Regions from separate parts of the Homo sapiens genome. Here region 1 is linked to region 2. The links come from fine-mapping of genetic effects on gene expression. Tissue or cell type: whole blood. Region 2 holds a variant in brackets; the other region holds the start of a gene. All regions are shown on one strand. Distances are between the middles of the regions.

Evidence for each region. PIP is the estimated chance that this variant, and not a neighbour inherited with it, causes the effect.
Region 1: it holds the start of SYTL3, and the variant in region 2 is fine-mapped to the expression of SYTL3 in whole blood (INTERVAL, PIP 0.96).

What each region holds. Positions count from the first base shown.
Region 1 is chr6:158,645,977-158,654,079 of GRCh38, reverse strand. It overlaps SYTL3 (synaptotagmin like 3), which reads right to left and starts at 4,026. Exons shown (of 18, transcript NM_001242394.2): 1 at 4,002-4,026; 2 at 2,238-2,327.
Region 2 is chr6:158,090,178-158,098,280 of GRCh38, reverse strand. SYNJ2 (synaptojanin 2) reads right to left here. Exons shown (of 27, transcript NM_003898.4): 26 at 5,177-5,355; 27 at 1-2,663. The coding sequence ends at 1,917. Among named protein-coding and RNA genes, the nearest start is that of SERAC1, 74 kb to the left of the region's middle. RefSeq lists an enhancer at 1,898-2,398. The variant T/GTTT (reference allele first, on the strand shown) is at 4,830.

The DNA.
Region 1 (8,103 bases), 560 kb before region 2:
AACAATGCCTGCTTGCTTTCCTCAGCCTAACAGCAAATCTTGACTTTGGCTTCTAAATCTGGTGAAAGGGGAAAAGTACAAGAAAAGTAAAACCAATGAAGAAAAGAGATGAGGAGGATGGGAAAGGGACACATTGTTTATTCTTAGGGGCCCCTATTTCTTTCATCCAATCATCTATTGTCTCTGAGCAGTCAGTCATCAGATCAAAGGAAATAAATGTTCAGCCCTCCCTGGTACGGGGGAAACGTCACCAGAGTGGAAATGCAGAGATCTGCGGTAGCATGAGTGCGTGTGAATGTGACTGTCATCACCACACACGCTTTCAAGGGAAGACTACAGAACGTTCTCAAAGCCCACAAGCCACAGCCCTGCAGGTCATTTCAAGCGGGCGGCAGCTCGCTCCTGTATTGTTTACCACAGCTATTTCCTTGAGAAGTTTCACAGCTTCAGCGTGCAGCCACCATGCTTTCTGCCTCGTACACAGGGGAAAAGTTGAGTGACTGCATTGTCCTTGAAATTTTACCTGAAAACCTCATGACTTTTTTGCTTGCATAGATTCTTTTTTTTTTTCTCTGAGACGGAGTTCGCTCTTGTTGCCCAGGCGGGAATGCAATGGCGCGATCTTGGCTCACCACAACCTCCGCCTCCCAGGTTCATGAAATTCTCCTGCCTCAACCTCCCGAGTAGCTGACATTACAGGCATGCACCACCATCCTCCGCTAATTTTGTATTTTTAGTAGAGACAGGGTTTCTTCATGTTGGTCAGGCTGGTCTCAAACTCCCAACCTCAGGTGATCTGCCCACCGTGGCCTCCCAAAGTGCTGGGATTACAGGTGTGAGCCACTGCGACCGGCCTGCTTGCATAGATTCTTTACGGAAGCTGATTACAGCCACAAAGGAAGGTGATGAATAAAGAACAGCTCTCAGCTCAGTTCCCTATTCATAGGCTTAAAAGACTCATTTTTGCAACAATGAGACAGCACGCATGCATATCCATCAGAAAGTCTGACACAGAAATGAAGATGTGCGTTTATACATTTTCTGTCTATCTTGTTACTCATTCAGAGGTGGGTTTTCTGGGAAGCGAATGACACCTCAACTTCAGAATCCTTTATTTGCACGGCCCTGTCCAAGGCCCTAGATGCCCTGTACCTGGTTCCCTCTTTGTTTTCCCAAAGTCTCCACAAGTTGTACAAGTTTCAGGTCCCTCAGATATCTCTACTTCACATTAGAAGACTCGGCTGGGTGCGGTGGCTCACGCCTGTAATCCCAGCACTTTGGGAAGCTGAGGTGGGTGGATCACGAGGTCAGGAGTTTTGAGACCAGCCTGGCCAACATGGTGAAACCCTGTCTTTACTAAAAATACAAAAATTAGCCGGGCATGGTGGTGGGCACCTGTAATCCCAGCTACTCGGGAAGCTGAGACAGAATTGTTTGAACCTGGGAGGTGGAGGTTGCAGTGAGCTGAGATCGCGCCATTGCACTCCAGCCTGGGTGACAGAGCGAGACTCTGTCTCAAAAAAATAAATAAGGCCGGGCGTGGTGGCTCACGCTTGTAATCCCAGCACTTTGGGAGGACGAGGCAGGTGGATCATGAAGTCAGGAGATGGAGACCATCCTGGCCAACATGTTAAAACCCTGTCTCCACTAAAAATACAAAAAAATTAGCCAGGTGTGGCGGCAGGTGCCTATAGTCCCAGCTACTTCGGAGGCTGAGGCAGGAGAATGGTGTTAACCCGGGAGGCAGAGCTTGCAGTGAGCTGAAATTGCAGCCACTGCACTCTAGCCTGGGCAACAGAGTGAGACTCTGTCTCAAAAAATAATAATAATAAAATAAGTAAATAAATAAACAGGCTGGGCTCGGTGGCTCACACCTGTAATCCCAACACTTTGGGAGGCCGAGGTGGGTGGATCACCTGAGGTCAGGAGTTTGAGACCAGCCTAGCCAACCTGGTGAAACCTCATCTATACTAAAAATACAAAAATTATCTGGGCATGGTGGCAGGCACCTGTAATCCTAGCTACCGGGGAGGCTGAGGCAGGAGAATCACTTGAACCTGGGAGGCAGGGGTTGCAGTGAACCGAGATCGTGCCATTGCACTCCAGCCTGGGCAACAGAGTGAGACTCCATCTCAAATAAATAAAAAAAAATAAAAATACATAAAAATAAATAAATAAATAAATAAAACATTAGAAGACTCACACGTGGGCTTGAATCTATAAAACTTGAAGCCTACCTGAGAGAGGACAAAGTTGAACAGGCGCTTTCTCTGAAAGATCACTGCAATTCACCGCTGATTCCGAGTATTCTTTCTCATTCGGGGAGCCTTTTACCACCCAAAAACAACAAAAAATATTACTTTAGAATCAGAAATAGGAATTCATGACTGAAATAGGAAGCCATGGCATTCATACTTTAAACTTGACCTCTTTGTATGGAAGAGCAAAGAAATGAGAATTAATATTATTATTTATTTATTTATTTATTTATTTGAGATGGAGTCTCGCTCTGTCACCAGGCTGGAGTGCAGTGGCGCGATCTCAGCTCACTGCAACCTCCACCTCCCGGGTTCAAGCAATTCCCCTGCCTCAGCCTCCTGAGTAGCTGGGACTACAGGCGCCCGCCACCACACCCAGCTAATTTTTTTGTATTTTTTAGTAGAGTTTCACCATGTTGGCCAGGATGATCTCGATCTCTTGACCTCATGATCCATCCGCCTAGGCCTCCCAAAGTGCTGAGATGACAGGCGTGAGCCATCACACCCGGCCGAGAATTAATATTATTATATCCTTCTAGGTACTACTCACAATTGTTGTTATGCTTTCTGTTGTGCCAACAGCTACTATTTATTTAGCTCTTACTCTGAACCAGATAGTTTAAGTACTTTGCATACATTATCTCTACTAATCCTTATTGCCACATTATGAAGTAAATGTACCCATTCTACAGATGAGGAGAGTGAGTCTTGGAGTGATTAAGTAACTTACCTAAACTCACACTCTAAACTGGGTCTGTTTAACTCCAAAACCTTATGCTTCATTTAGGCAAAGCAGCTAAGTTAGAATCTCCAACTATCTTGGCTAAATAATCTTTTCTACACCAATTCTAATTTCTTTTTTTCTTTTTTTGAGACGGAGTCTTACTCTGTTGCCCAGGCTGGATTGCAGTGGCAGGATCTTGGCTCACTGCCACCTCCGCCTCCCAGGTTCAAGTGATTCTCGTGCCTCAGCCTCCTGGGCAGCTGGGATTACAGGTGCCTGCCACCACACCCAGCTAATTTTTGTATTTTTTTTTTTTTTTTAGAGATGGGGTTTCATCATGTTGGCCAGGCTGGTCTCAAATTCCTGATCTCAAGGGATCTACCCACCTTGGCCTCCCAAAGTACTGGGATTACAGGCGTGAGCCACCGCACCCAGCCCAATTCTAATTTAATAAATCTTTAATATCTAATGTGCACTTTCCTCTCATAGTCTCTTTCTTACCAAGCAATTTAGAGATTAAGGAAGCTTAATTAAAAGAAATTTAAATTAGACCCTAGCTAACTTTTTTATAATTCCAAAATGATATTTATGTTCCACCTCCAAACGAGAAATTACGGATGATCAAAACAATAAAGTCGATTCAGAGAGAGCAAAATAGTAATAAACTGTAAGTATAAGAATTTGCAAACCAAAGAAGAAAGCAAATGACACTCTACCCTTTAAAAAAAAAAATCACACCATATAGCTTTTGGATAGTGTTTTTCTGTTTTGTTTTGGTTTTTAATTAACTCTGAAGTCACTTCCACCATATCACTTAAATCATTATTATCTCAAATGTTAAATGTATGTTATTCAATAAAATTACAAGATATCTTTTATCTAATTTATTATGTTTTGTTTCCTACCTTTTCAATGTCATAAATTTAAGAAAAGTTACAATAACTATAATCTCTACCCACCCCACTCCCCCACTCCTAAAACGACCTGCTGCAACGGCCAGCCATGCCTTCTCATCCTACCTTCGCATCTGCTTCAAGAGAAGAGACCAGAGCCGGCTCTGCAGAGAAGGAAGTCAATTCTTCTTGTTAGAGTAACTGACGTATTTCTCTTCCCTTCCTGTCGGGCACAGGCTGACGCAGTGCACCCTGTGTGGCCAGCCTTACATGCCTCGGTGGCTACTCCCACATCACTAGGGACCCAGGGAGCAAAGCCACCCCAAAACCACATCAAGGAGCTCTTCTATGCCAACATTTTACATTTTTAGCTGGAGGAAAGACCAGGCTGATGCTGGTGAAATGTTTCACCCTTCCTAAGGAAACTCCCTACAGAGACTACAGCCTTCAAATATTCAAATGTTCTCACATTTGTGAAGGGTTTCACATTGACTTCAGTGTAAATGACTAACCACATCTCAAAGAACAGCTATTAACTCAAGAATAATTTACAAGAAAGGGGGACAGCCAGGCCAAGAGCGATGAAGATTGTAATGAAATCACCAAGGGGAACCTTCAAAATGCTGTGCGTGTACTAGGTAGTATTACTCAGCACCGTGAAGTGTCCCTGCCCTGCTAACTCAGGCATGGCCAAGGACTTGCTCTGGAGAGCAATAAGACAATGAAGTGTGTGCAAAGGTGCCACGTGCCACGTAGGCTTGGCACCTACCGAGCCAGTACTGGGGCCACCATTCATTCTCTTTCCCTTCTCTTTCCCTTGATGACTCCAGACACAGGCTGCTCCAGCAACCTCGTCTCAGCATGGAGAAGACATGAAGCAGAGCCATGGAAGATCCTTGATGGTCATGGAGTGTGAGTGGCAAATAAATGTTTGCTGTCATCAACCACTGAGAGTGTAGGGCCATTTGTTTCTGCAGCTAACCTAGCCTATTCTGCTGATGTAGTGTGTAGTGTTTTCACAAACACAGAACTGAGCACCAAACTATTTAATAACTACTATAGCATGAATATTTACCCATTGGAACAAATGCCAGCGGAGGCCCTGCTATACCACGAGTTATCCTTTAGTTATTGGATCTTGGGGATGAGGTCCCAGGGAAGGGGCTGCAGTCACCAGGATTGAGAGGAAGAGGGACCCAAGAAGCTCAGAGCAGCCACTGTTTCATGGGGTACAGAGGTATTTCAGCACAACTGTGCCTCCGCTTCCCAGCTCAATAGCAGATCTAAATATAGGCACTTCTTAGCTAATCTCTTTAGCTTTTCTCAGCACAGGACTCTCACTTTAGATATGTGTCAGCCAGAGTTTCTTTTCCTTTACAACATTAAATTCCTCAGCCATGAGTGTTTCAACAGCACCCTCGTCCTCATCGTCTTCTTCTGTTACTATTATTTTGACTCAGCATGATCTCATAGTAACACACTTCTTGGCACAGGGGAAGAAAGGAAAAAATGGAAAATCCACAGGATGGCATTTGGACTATGAAGGGCTGCAGATTATAGCAGAACAACACTGCTGGATATTATTATTATTATTATTTTTTTTTTTTTTTTTTTGAGACCGAGTCTCGCTCTTTCACCCAGTCGGGACTGCAGTGGCGCGATCTCGGCTCACTGCAAGCTCCGCCTCCCGGGTTCACGCTATTCTCCTGCCTCAGCCTCCCGAGTAGCTGGGACTACAGGCGCCCACCACCGCACCCAGCTAATTTTTTGTATTTTTAGTAGATACAGGGTTTCACCGTGTTAGCCAGGATGGTCTCGATCTCCTGACCTCGTGATCCGCCCGCCTCGGCCTCCCAAAGTGCTGGGATTACAGGCGTGAGCCACCACGCCTGGCCTATTATTTTATTTTTTGAGACGGAGTTTCGCTCTTGTTACCCGGGCTGGAGTGCAATGGCGCTATCTCAGCTCACCGCAATCTCTGCCTCCTGGGTTCAAGCGATTCTCCTGCCTCAGCCTCCCAAGTAGCTGGGATTACAAGCATGCACCACCATGCCTGGCTAATTTTGTATTTTTAGTAGAGATAGGGTTTCTCCATGTTGGTCAGGCTAGTCTCGAACTCCCGACCTCTGGTGATCTGCCCACCTCAGCCTCCCAAAGTACTGGGATTACAGGTGTGAGCCACTGCGCCCAGCCACTGCTGGATATTATTGATGTTATTTATTGATGTGACAGTTCATTGATTGCTATGATTATTAGGCCCACACTTGCTAAATAAAGGTATTGGCAGCTCCAGTCCCACAGTCTGTATTCAAGAAATTTGACTCCAGAAAAGAAAGGTGATTGCACGCAAACCTGCCAACCTATCACTAACCTCCAAATTGAAAAACAAACCTAAGATTCACTCCACTGACTTACTGCATAGAAACTAAACATTATTCTAAAATATGGCAGAATGCCAAAGATTCATGAGCAGTTACGAGTAAAGGTGTCTGAGCTCCAATGCTTCTGATGGACATCCATTCGTGGCAGATGGAAGGTGCTGGAAATGGCATCTGGTGAACTGCCAAATGTCTTAACGATTTTAAATTCCTTAGCCCTACAGACTACATCAGTTGGGCAGAATATAATACCACATCACTGCATTTTTCCAAGCACTACAACATCACATAAGCCTAGAGAATTCAAACCCTCCTATTTACAGATATATCCGTTTAAAAGAAAAAATTCCATAAAGGCCATGTTTTAGTCAACTTTGTAGCCTCAACCCCCAGCTCAGAGCCTGACACAAAGGGAGTGCTCCATATATGTGTATTGAACAAGTGAACAGATAGTTGTGAAGATAAACAGACCAGCTCATCCGTTTACTGGCAGCCTCAAAATGTCATACATCGCGATCATTTAACAAATGTTCTTTAATAGTTAAAATTGGAGAGTGGTACCCAATGTATAAAAGCTAAAATCATGTAAGCATTTTTAAAATGCACATTTGCATGTTTTCTGTTGATTTATGTGCATGCTGGTGATCCGCAGTTATAACAAGATCCATGCATTAATTATGCACCATCCTAGCAGACATTCAGGAAATTGATTTAAATTAGGAAGTTCCTAAAAGGTTGTGGGGAAAATTGAAAAGGCTGTCCCAAGTGTCATGTTCTTCCATTGCAGGTGTTTGCTCAGAACCGGTTTACTCTTGCTTTGCACATAATTCTGTGACACTTAGCTACTGAACTCCAGGTCCACAACAAAGTAGCAGAAGAAAAAAGATTTCAGAGGCTCCTGATTGGCTCAGGATCGTGGTGGGGCCAAGAGCTTGGAACCAGGTAGGCAGAGAACATCCAAAACGAGATCTCAGGTGATACTGAGAAGGGCAGGCAGGCAAAGCAATGTCAGCATCAGAATCACATGTGGACTGAGGCGCACGACTGAAACACCAGGACAGGGGAGTTGAAGCCAGGTAATAAGAAAGGAATTCAAAAGGTAGATAAAGTTCAGAATCCAAGGAGAGGAAGACCAGGTGTGGTAAAGCAACCAGCCTGCCCAGCAAGTCTCCTCGCTCAGGCCGAACACCCAGGGCCAAGCAGCCTTGTGTCAGTCAGGGCTCTGCCCTCCTCTCGCCAGCCCTGTTTCCCTCAAGGAGGCAGGTAGTTGCATCTTCCTCCACTCCCCAGTTCTCTCCATTTGGGTCTGAGGCAAAGCTAACACCCATGAGGGAAATGATTCATGCAATAAATTTTAGGCCGGGCATGGTGGCTCACAGCTATAATCCCAGCACTTTGGGAGGCTGAGGCTGGAGGATCCCTTAAGCCCGGGAGTTTGAGACCTGCCTGGGCAACACAGTGAGATCCCATCTCTACAAAAGACATATTAAAAAAATAGGTGGGTGTGGTGGCTAGTGCCTGGAATCCCAGCTGCTCAGGAGGCTAAGGCAGGAGAATACCTTGAGCCCAGGAGTTCAAGCTCTTAGTGGTCTTTGGATGACTAAACTTCAACACATCTTAGCTCAAAATCTCCGATCACACCACTGCATTCCAGCCCGGGCAACAGAATGACACCCTGTCTCTAAATAAATAAATAAATAAATGTTAATTGTGTAGCTATTATGTGCCAGGCACAATGTGGAAGGAAGGGGATACATTAGTGAATAAAACAGATCCTTCCTGCATGGTACTTAGTTTCTAAATGGAGACACACCATCAACAAGCAACCATAAATACGTTCTTGCAAACTG
Region 2 (8,103 bases):
AAGAGAAAACCTAAAAATGAGATCTATTTCCAGCACTGCAAGCAACTTTGGAGGAGCTTACTTTTCCCCTGCTTCTTTGACTGGTTGTTACATTTATCTGTTTTCAAATTTATCTCCTTTTTGGTGAGAAAAGAGGTTATAGGGAAAAGAGCATTTGAATGAATTCTTCAATTTCATTTCATTTATGACTCTGGCTGTTAATAGCGATGTGCATCTTGGCAAATCAGCTTCTCCAAGGAACCCATCTTGCTCTCTCCCCCAAACTCTGTTAAGGACCATTCTGTTTATTTCTTGTGTTTGTTACAGAGGTAAAAATCATATAAAGCACGTAAATGCCACCAACGGCATCCTGATCACCTAAACACCGCCTTTTATGACTGGTCAACTATGCATCTTATCTGTCTAGCTCTGTGGGTCACGGATTCCTTTTTTTTTTTATCCTTTTCCAGGTATTAGTTTTCAGATGAAAAGAGATACGTGTTGTAACTTTTGTTTTGATGGCCATATTTAAGTAATCTGCAATATATCTTGACAGTGACAATGAAAACTAATTATGAAATTCCAGATGTCTAATTGGTAACAAGACAGTGGCATAGCCCAGGCAAGATGATCCTTACTATCCTAGCAGTCAGCTTTTAGGACAGACATCCCCCAGTCACGTAAGGGATGACACTTGATCACTGCTGTGCGAGCCTCTGTACGAGGCTCCCAGATACAACAGGCGGTACAGTAAGATTTCACTACTGAACTTCTTATTAAATAGCGAAAACACGGTATCTGCTCCAAATGGATTCCAGACCTTGTAACATTACTTTAAAAATGTAAAGCACTATGGTAATGTCTTTTTCAGTTATTGAATAGGTGAGAAGTGCTGTTGGAAACGTGGGAAAAATGTATAGGCAAAAAATATAGACAAACATATAGACAAGCAAACCCAGAAACACTGGCCTGGTGATTCTTATATGCAGGGACACATAGCACTTTCCATCCCGAAGCTCCAGCCGGACAGACGAGGCTGAAACACTCTCCATATTCTAACAATGAGAATCAATATCGCGTATCAGCAAGAGTTTTCGCACTGTGTGCTTTTATGTGGTATGCATGGAATATAAGCGGAACAAAGGATCCGTGAGGTTTCATTTAATAAGGACTAGATGGTGGATAAAAATTGGTTTCAGTAGCACACCATGGCTCAGGATTATAGTAATTGATAGGGCATGCAATGTCTAAGACATGGCACAGGAGCCTTCAGCTAGTTTAAGCTAAGGTTAAGCTAACGGTGTATGCCACCGGCTCCCTCGGGATTCACGCATCATCAAGGTTAACGCACATGTACACACTTAAACATGAAGGCTCATGGGAATGTACAGTCTAGTCATTAGGTTGACCTATTTGGCTGCTTCCGACTCTGATTTTTTGTAACCTTGTTTAAGTGGGCCAGGACAGCTACTAATGGTCACAACGACCTCTTTCTCTAATCCTTACTTTATACATCAACCTTCAGGTGGCTCCCCAAAATGTTATACCAAATCTGTAAAATGCAAATAAAACAAAAGACAAATCTCCATCACGTACAACATGAACTGAACAGCCATTTAAAAATTCAATGGGTGAGAACTTCTTGGACCTCATTGGCTAGATTCCTTTCTTAAAATCCATACACCGAATTTAACAGGAAGGTTCCCATTCCTTGAAGAGCAAACTTCAGATGTACAAGCCTTGAGTGAAATATATTTTGGTGGCTGAGTAACCATCTTACTGAATAAGAGACACGATTTTTGTAAACTACACGAGAGTGACAGATGCACAAACGTTTTGGCCAGTGTGCCTTTAAATAGATGTCTCTTCTGGTGGAGGGATGTCTAGAGGGAGGAAGGTATGCATTCTATAGGACTGCAGCCTTCAAAGCTGCTCAGTCATGTTTTTGCCAGTGGGTCAAACACCTGCAGTGCTGTCCTCTTTTCTTGGTCACTGATTGTCACCCAGTGACCTAAGGTTTTGTGTTCATGATCTGGTGGCAGCTCTGCCTTGGCAGCTGAAGCGCCAGCTGACACTGGGTCTATGGGATCTCTTTTGGGGCTCCTGGTTCCTGAGTCCAAAGGGTCTGAGCTCTTAGAAAGCCAAGTGTTATTCAACAGTTTAGGGTGGTGAAGAAGGTTCCAGAAGGGGTCCTGATAATCACCAAGAAGTGGGGCTGCCTCTGGCTTCATCGCTTTGGTGCCATCGCTGTCGGGGCTTGTAGCAGATGAAGTGCTGAGAAAGTCCCCTTGTGGGAAGACGGTGCCCGCGGCAGGTGGGTGCCCAGAGGGGCTGTCACTGCTATTGTAAGTGAGGCCCTGGAGAAGCTGGCTGTTGCTCTGCAGGACCTGCAGGTGGAAGGCTGCGGGGGCTGACTTCTTCCTCCTCGGGGGTACCTTGGGCACAAGAGGCGGCGCCTCCAGAGGTGGTGGCACAGAGGCTCCTGCCCCAGGAGGGGCTTCGTCTGATGCTGGCTTCCTGTGGCTTGGCCTCTCTGCAGCTTTCCCAGGCTGAAATGTTCTTGGTTTGGGAACAGGAGGGACTCGAGGGGCTGTCACGACAGGAGGGGCCTCAACGCTTGTCTCCGGGGGCCCGATTGTAAAATGGACAGTCTGTTGCTCAAACTGTTCTTCCGGTGACAGGGGCTGAGAAAAGGTGGGACAAAGAGTGTAAATAAGAAGCCAATAACTAGGCAGCTGAGGATCAGAGAACAGAGTGGCCAGCAGAGAACAGAGATGAGACCAAGCTGACATTCTAGCAAATTCGAGATTTGAGAATGTGTGGGGTGCCAGAAATGTGACCAGGTAAGAAAAAGAAAAAGCACAGGAGAAACACACATTTATCAGGTCACACCAGCAGGTCCAATGAAAACGAGTGGAAAATTTAAAACCAGGGCCACAGTAAATAATCAGACAAACTTTTCTTTGTCCTTTAGGAAATGGGGTGATGCTCTTCCTTTATTGAAAGCAAACCTCTCTGAAAACACTCTTTGAAGTTGCAACCTGGGCTGATTCATGGTCTGTATCATGCTAGGGTGAAGTAACTTGTGTTACAACATAAGCTAACTGAAGGACTAATGGATATACTTTCTCCTTGAATTTTTTTTTTTTTTTTGAGAAGGAGTCTCGCCCTGTCCCCCAGGCTGGAGTGCAATGGCGCAATCTCAGCTCACTGTAACCTCCGCCTCCCAGGTTCAAGCGATTCTCCTGCTTCAGCCTCCCGAGTAGCTGGGATTGCAGGCGCCTGCCACCATGCCTGGCTAATTTTTGTATTTTGTAGTAGAGACGGGGTTTCACCATGTTGGTCAGGCTGGTCTTGAACTCCTGACCTCAGGTGATCCACCCGCCTCAGCCTCCCAAAGTGCTGGGATTACACGCGTGAGCCACCGCGCCCAGCTCCTTGAATCTTTTATACTTAAATATTGGTAAAGAATGGAAACCTTGACACTGCCTTGGTTCTGGTTCAAATCTATCACAAAGAAAACAACTGCACAGGCAAAATGAAGCTTTTGTTCAGAAAAGGTGATCAGTAGACTAGTTAAACATTGGCGTTTCAGTGTTTCTTTGGTTCTTTAGAAAACAAACTAAGAAAAAAGAAAGTCTCTTTTCCAACAGCCTTTTAACTTTAACTCCTGTGCAGCAGGTTGGGAAAATGAATCTATTTCTGCTCCTGGCTTTTACAAGAAAAGACAAAGCAGGTGGTCCCCGACTTACAATGGTTCCACTGAGGATTTTCCACTTCACCCTAGTGCACAAGCGCTAATGTTCCGTAGAAAGCATACTTTGAATTTTGAAGTTTGATCTTTTATTTTTATTATTATAAAATAGGCTGTGTTGGATGGGTGTTTTTTTTTTTTTTTTTTTTTTTTGCCCAGCCGTAGGCTAATGTATGTGTTCTGAGTGTGTTCAAGGTCAGCGAGACCATGACGTTTGCTAGGTTAGGTGTATGAGATGCAGTTTTGACACGCTATTTTTCAACTTACGATGGGTTTATTGGGATGTAACCCCATTTTAAGTCGAGGAGCATCTGAACAGGGAAGAGGCGGAGGAAAAAGGTCCACTTTGTAAGGAAGCATGGACAAGGGACAGATGGCAATGAGCCAATGTGGGACAGAAGAGCAACCCAGGAAATACAAAGCAAGCGCTGTCAAGAGTGAAGCCGAAGCCCCCCTCACACTCTCTAGGGGGGAAGCAGCATCGTGCTGTGATGACCAGGAAGGGATTACCGAGGGTCCGTTACTAGAACACTGAGATCAAACGGAAGATCCAGATGTGTCTACAGATGCCAGTCTTTGGGCTGCTACTGTCCTTACAAACTCATGTCTTTGAAGCAGTAAGCAAGGCTGAGAAGCTTGAGAGCGAGAGCAAAAAACAATCTGCAAGAAAAGTGGCAAGAAAAGCTGTGGAACCTCTCGTAGGCTGAGGCCGCACGAGAGCATGTGAACATGGCGAATCTGGGAATCGGTTACTGTTTTCCTAATGCCTTGAAACCATGTGCACACAACACAGACCACACGCAAATGGGCGGTACCAGAACATGTGGGGAAAAGCATCCCACTATGGTTCCCTTTGGGGACTCAAAACACTTAGGAAGCATAATACCTCCAAGCTGTTCTTGTCACACTGACAATGTGCCAGACAGTGGACTCCTCGTTCTTCTCAGCCAGAGCCAAGACACAGTAGGATATGAGGGAAGAAGCAGTTGTCAAAACTTTCCCCAAAGACACACCTGTGTCTGGGACTCATGAACGTGAGGATGTCCATAGGGAACTAGATTTTTATCTGTGAGACGCAAATCTGTTTTTTTTTTTT[T/GTTT]GTTTTTTTTTTTTTTGAGGTGGAGTCTCACTCTGCTGCTCAGGCTGGAATGCAGTGGCACGATTTCGGCTCACTGCAACCTCTGCCTCCTGGGTTCAAGTGATTCTCCTGCCTCAGCCTCCTGAGTAGCTGGGATTACAGGCGTGCGCCACCACGCCCGGCTAATTTTTCTATTTTTAGTAGAGACGGGGTTTCACACCATGTTGGTCAGGCTGGTCTTGAACTCCTGACCTCGTAATCCGCTTGCCTCGGCTTCCCAATGTGCTGGGATTACAGGCCACAATTCTTATCTATCGAGACATGTGAGCAACTTAGGAGTAAGAGGTTTTATGTTACCAGGCTTTTACCTTTCCTGTCCTTCTCAAGGTTGGCTTCTTGATGGCAGGAACTCTGGGTGGGGGCCGACGGGGAAGGAGTGGGGGCGCCTGTGGGGTCTCTGGTTTGGCTGCCCCCGGTGTGGGCTCTGGTTCAGAGGATGCTTCAAGGTCCCTTGGGGCCACGGCACTTAGGGCTTCTTCGGAGGCACCTGAAACATAAAACCACATGGCTGAAGTGTAAAGGACAAGGCAATTCACTGCATGATTTCGTCCTTAGACAGTCTACATCCTAAGTGTCATTTACTAATTCAGTGTATTTCAGGAGTAATCAGCTAGATTCAGTCCCAGCTTTTTTTCTTTTTTCTTTTTTAAGATGGGCTCTCGCTCTGCCACCCAGGCCGGAGTGCAGCGGCATGATCACGGCTCACTGCAGTCTCAACCTCCCAGGCTCGAGCAATTCTCCCATTTCAGCCTCCTGAGTAGCTGGGATTACGGGTGAGCACTGCCACGCCCAGCCAATTTTTAAAATTTTTAGTAGAGATGAGGTCTCACTATGTTGCTGGAACTCCTGGGCTCATGCAGTCTTCTTACCTCAGCCTCCCAAGTAGCTGGGACTACTGGTGTGAACCACCACGCCCAGCTAATTTTAAAATTTTTGTAGAGAGAGGGTCTCATTGTGTTGCCCAGACTTGTCTCGAACTCCTGGATTCAAGCAGTCCTCCCACCCCAGCCTCTCAAAGTGCTGGGATTACAGGCGTGAGCCACCGCACCCAGCAGTCCCAGGTTTTCATGCTCACCTTCCTAGCAGGGGTGGTGATCTGGGGTCTGTGGATAGTTTGGATGGGGACCAGTGAGACCCTGAGATCATATGCAAAGTCTCATGTGTACTTACATTTCTCAGGGTAGATGATCCAAAGACATCAAAATCTCAATGGGGCCATGACCAAGAAAGTGTTAAGCCGGGACTGTAGGTAGATTTCACACCTCTACTAACATCTACATCTCTAGAGTTTTTTTTTTTTTAACAGCTTTATTGTGACATAATTCACATACCGTGAAATTCACCCTTTCTAAGTGTACCATTCATTGGTTTTTAGTGTATCCACAAAGTTGTGCAACCATCATACGATCTAACTCCAGAACATTTTCATCACACAAAAAAGAAGCCCCACAGCAGCCACTCCCCACCCAGGCCTCCTTCCAGTCCCTGGAAAGCAAGAAGAACTTTCTGACCCCATGAATTTGCCTGCTGTGGCCATTTCATAAAAAGGGGATGGTACACTATGTGGCCTTTTTTTCTTTCTTTCACATAGTATAATGTCTTCAAGGTCCACCCATGAAGTAGTATGTATCAGCACTTCATTCTTTTTTTTTTTTTTTTTTATGAGACAGAGTCTAGCTCTGTCACCCAGGCTGGAGTGCAGTGGCGTTATCTTGGCTCACTGCAACCTCTGCCTCCCCAGTTCAAATGATTCTTCTGCCTCAGCCTCCCGAGTAACTGGGACTAACAGGCACGTGCCACCACGCCCGGCTAATTTTTTTGTATTTTTAGTAGAGATGGAGTTTCACTGTGTTAGCCAGGATGGTCTCGATCTCCTAACCTCGTGATCCGCCTGCCTCGGCCTCCCAAAGCGCTGGGATTACAGGCGTGAGCCACTGCACCCAGCACCCAGCCCCATTCTTTTTTTTTTTAATGGCTGAACAATATTCCATTGTATTGATGGACCACATTTTGTTTATCCATTTATCAGCTGATGGACACTTGGGTTGTTATATCCATAGTTTTAGTTATTTTTCTTTCTTTCTTTTTTCTTTTTTTGAGACGGAGTCTTGCTCTGTCACCCAGGCTGGAGTGCAGTGGTGCAATCTTGGCTCACTGCGAGCTCCACCTCCCGGGCTCAGCCATTCTCCTGCCTCAGCCTCCTGAGTAGCTGGGACTACAGTCACCCACCATCACGCCCGGCTAATTTTTTGAATTTTTAGTAGAGACGGGGTTTCACCGTGTTAGCCAGGATGGTCTCGATTTCCTGTCCTCGTGATCCACCCGCCTCGGCCTCCCAAAGTGCTGGGATTACAGGCGTGAGCCACCGCGCCCGGCCTAGTTTTAGTTATTTTTCTAAAATAAAAAAAAAGAAAGCATTTGTAGCAGTATCATTCTACAACAGTAGTTCTCGACCTTTTAACTCATGCCCCCTTAAATATTATTTGAGAATTCCAAAGAAGTTAAACATGCTGACTAAAAGCAAATTAAGCAATGGTGATTGCTTACACCTTTTTAAAGGGCACACTCGGCCAGGTGTGGTGGCTCACACCTGTAATCCCAGCACTTTAGGAGGCCAAGGTGGATGAATCACCTGAGGTTGGGAGTTCAAGACCAGCCTGGCCAACAAGGTGAAATCACATTTCTACTGAAAATACAAAAATTGGCTCATCATGGGGCTGCGCGCCTGTAGTCCCAGCTACTCAGGTGGCTGAGGCAGGATATTTGCTCGAACCTGGGAGGCGGAGGTTGCAGTGACCTGGGATTGAGCCACTGCACTCCAGTCCAGCTGACAGAGTGAAACTCAGTCTCAAAAAAAAAAAAAAAAAAAACAAAAAAAAAAACGAAGAAAAGGGCACACTCTCCTCTCTAGGAGATTCTGGAACAAAGCCAAGGCCAAAACTAAAAGTGTAAATTACCAGTGATTATGAATGAAGTGGGGGAGAGCCCAAGGTAACTAACATGGTTTAAGTAACAGCAACAAAAAATAATGTGGTGGGAAAGAGGTCCCTGCCTGACACTAAAAACTTTATTTCCACTTGCCAGTGATTTAAAAGGTAGATTTTGTGCCTGAAATTAGGACAAACACTATAACTGTCTCTGTTTTATAAAGCTGGCAGAATGACTTCATGCCGGCAGCATTCACCTTTTTTAAAAACTCATTTTGGTTTTTTTCGGTCTCTCCTTTAGACGCCGC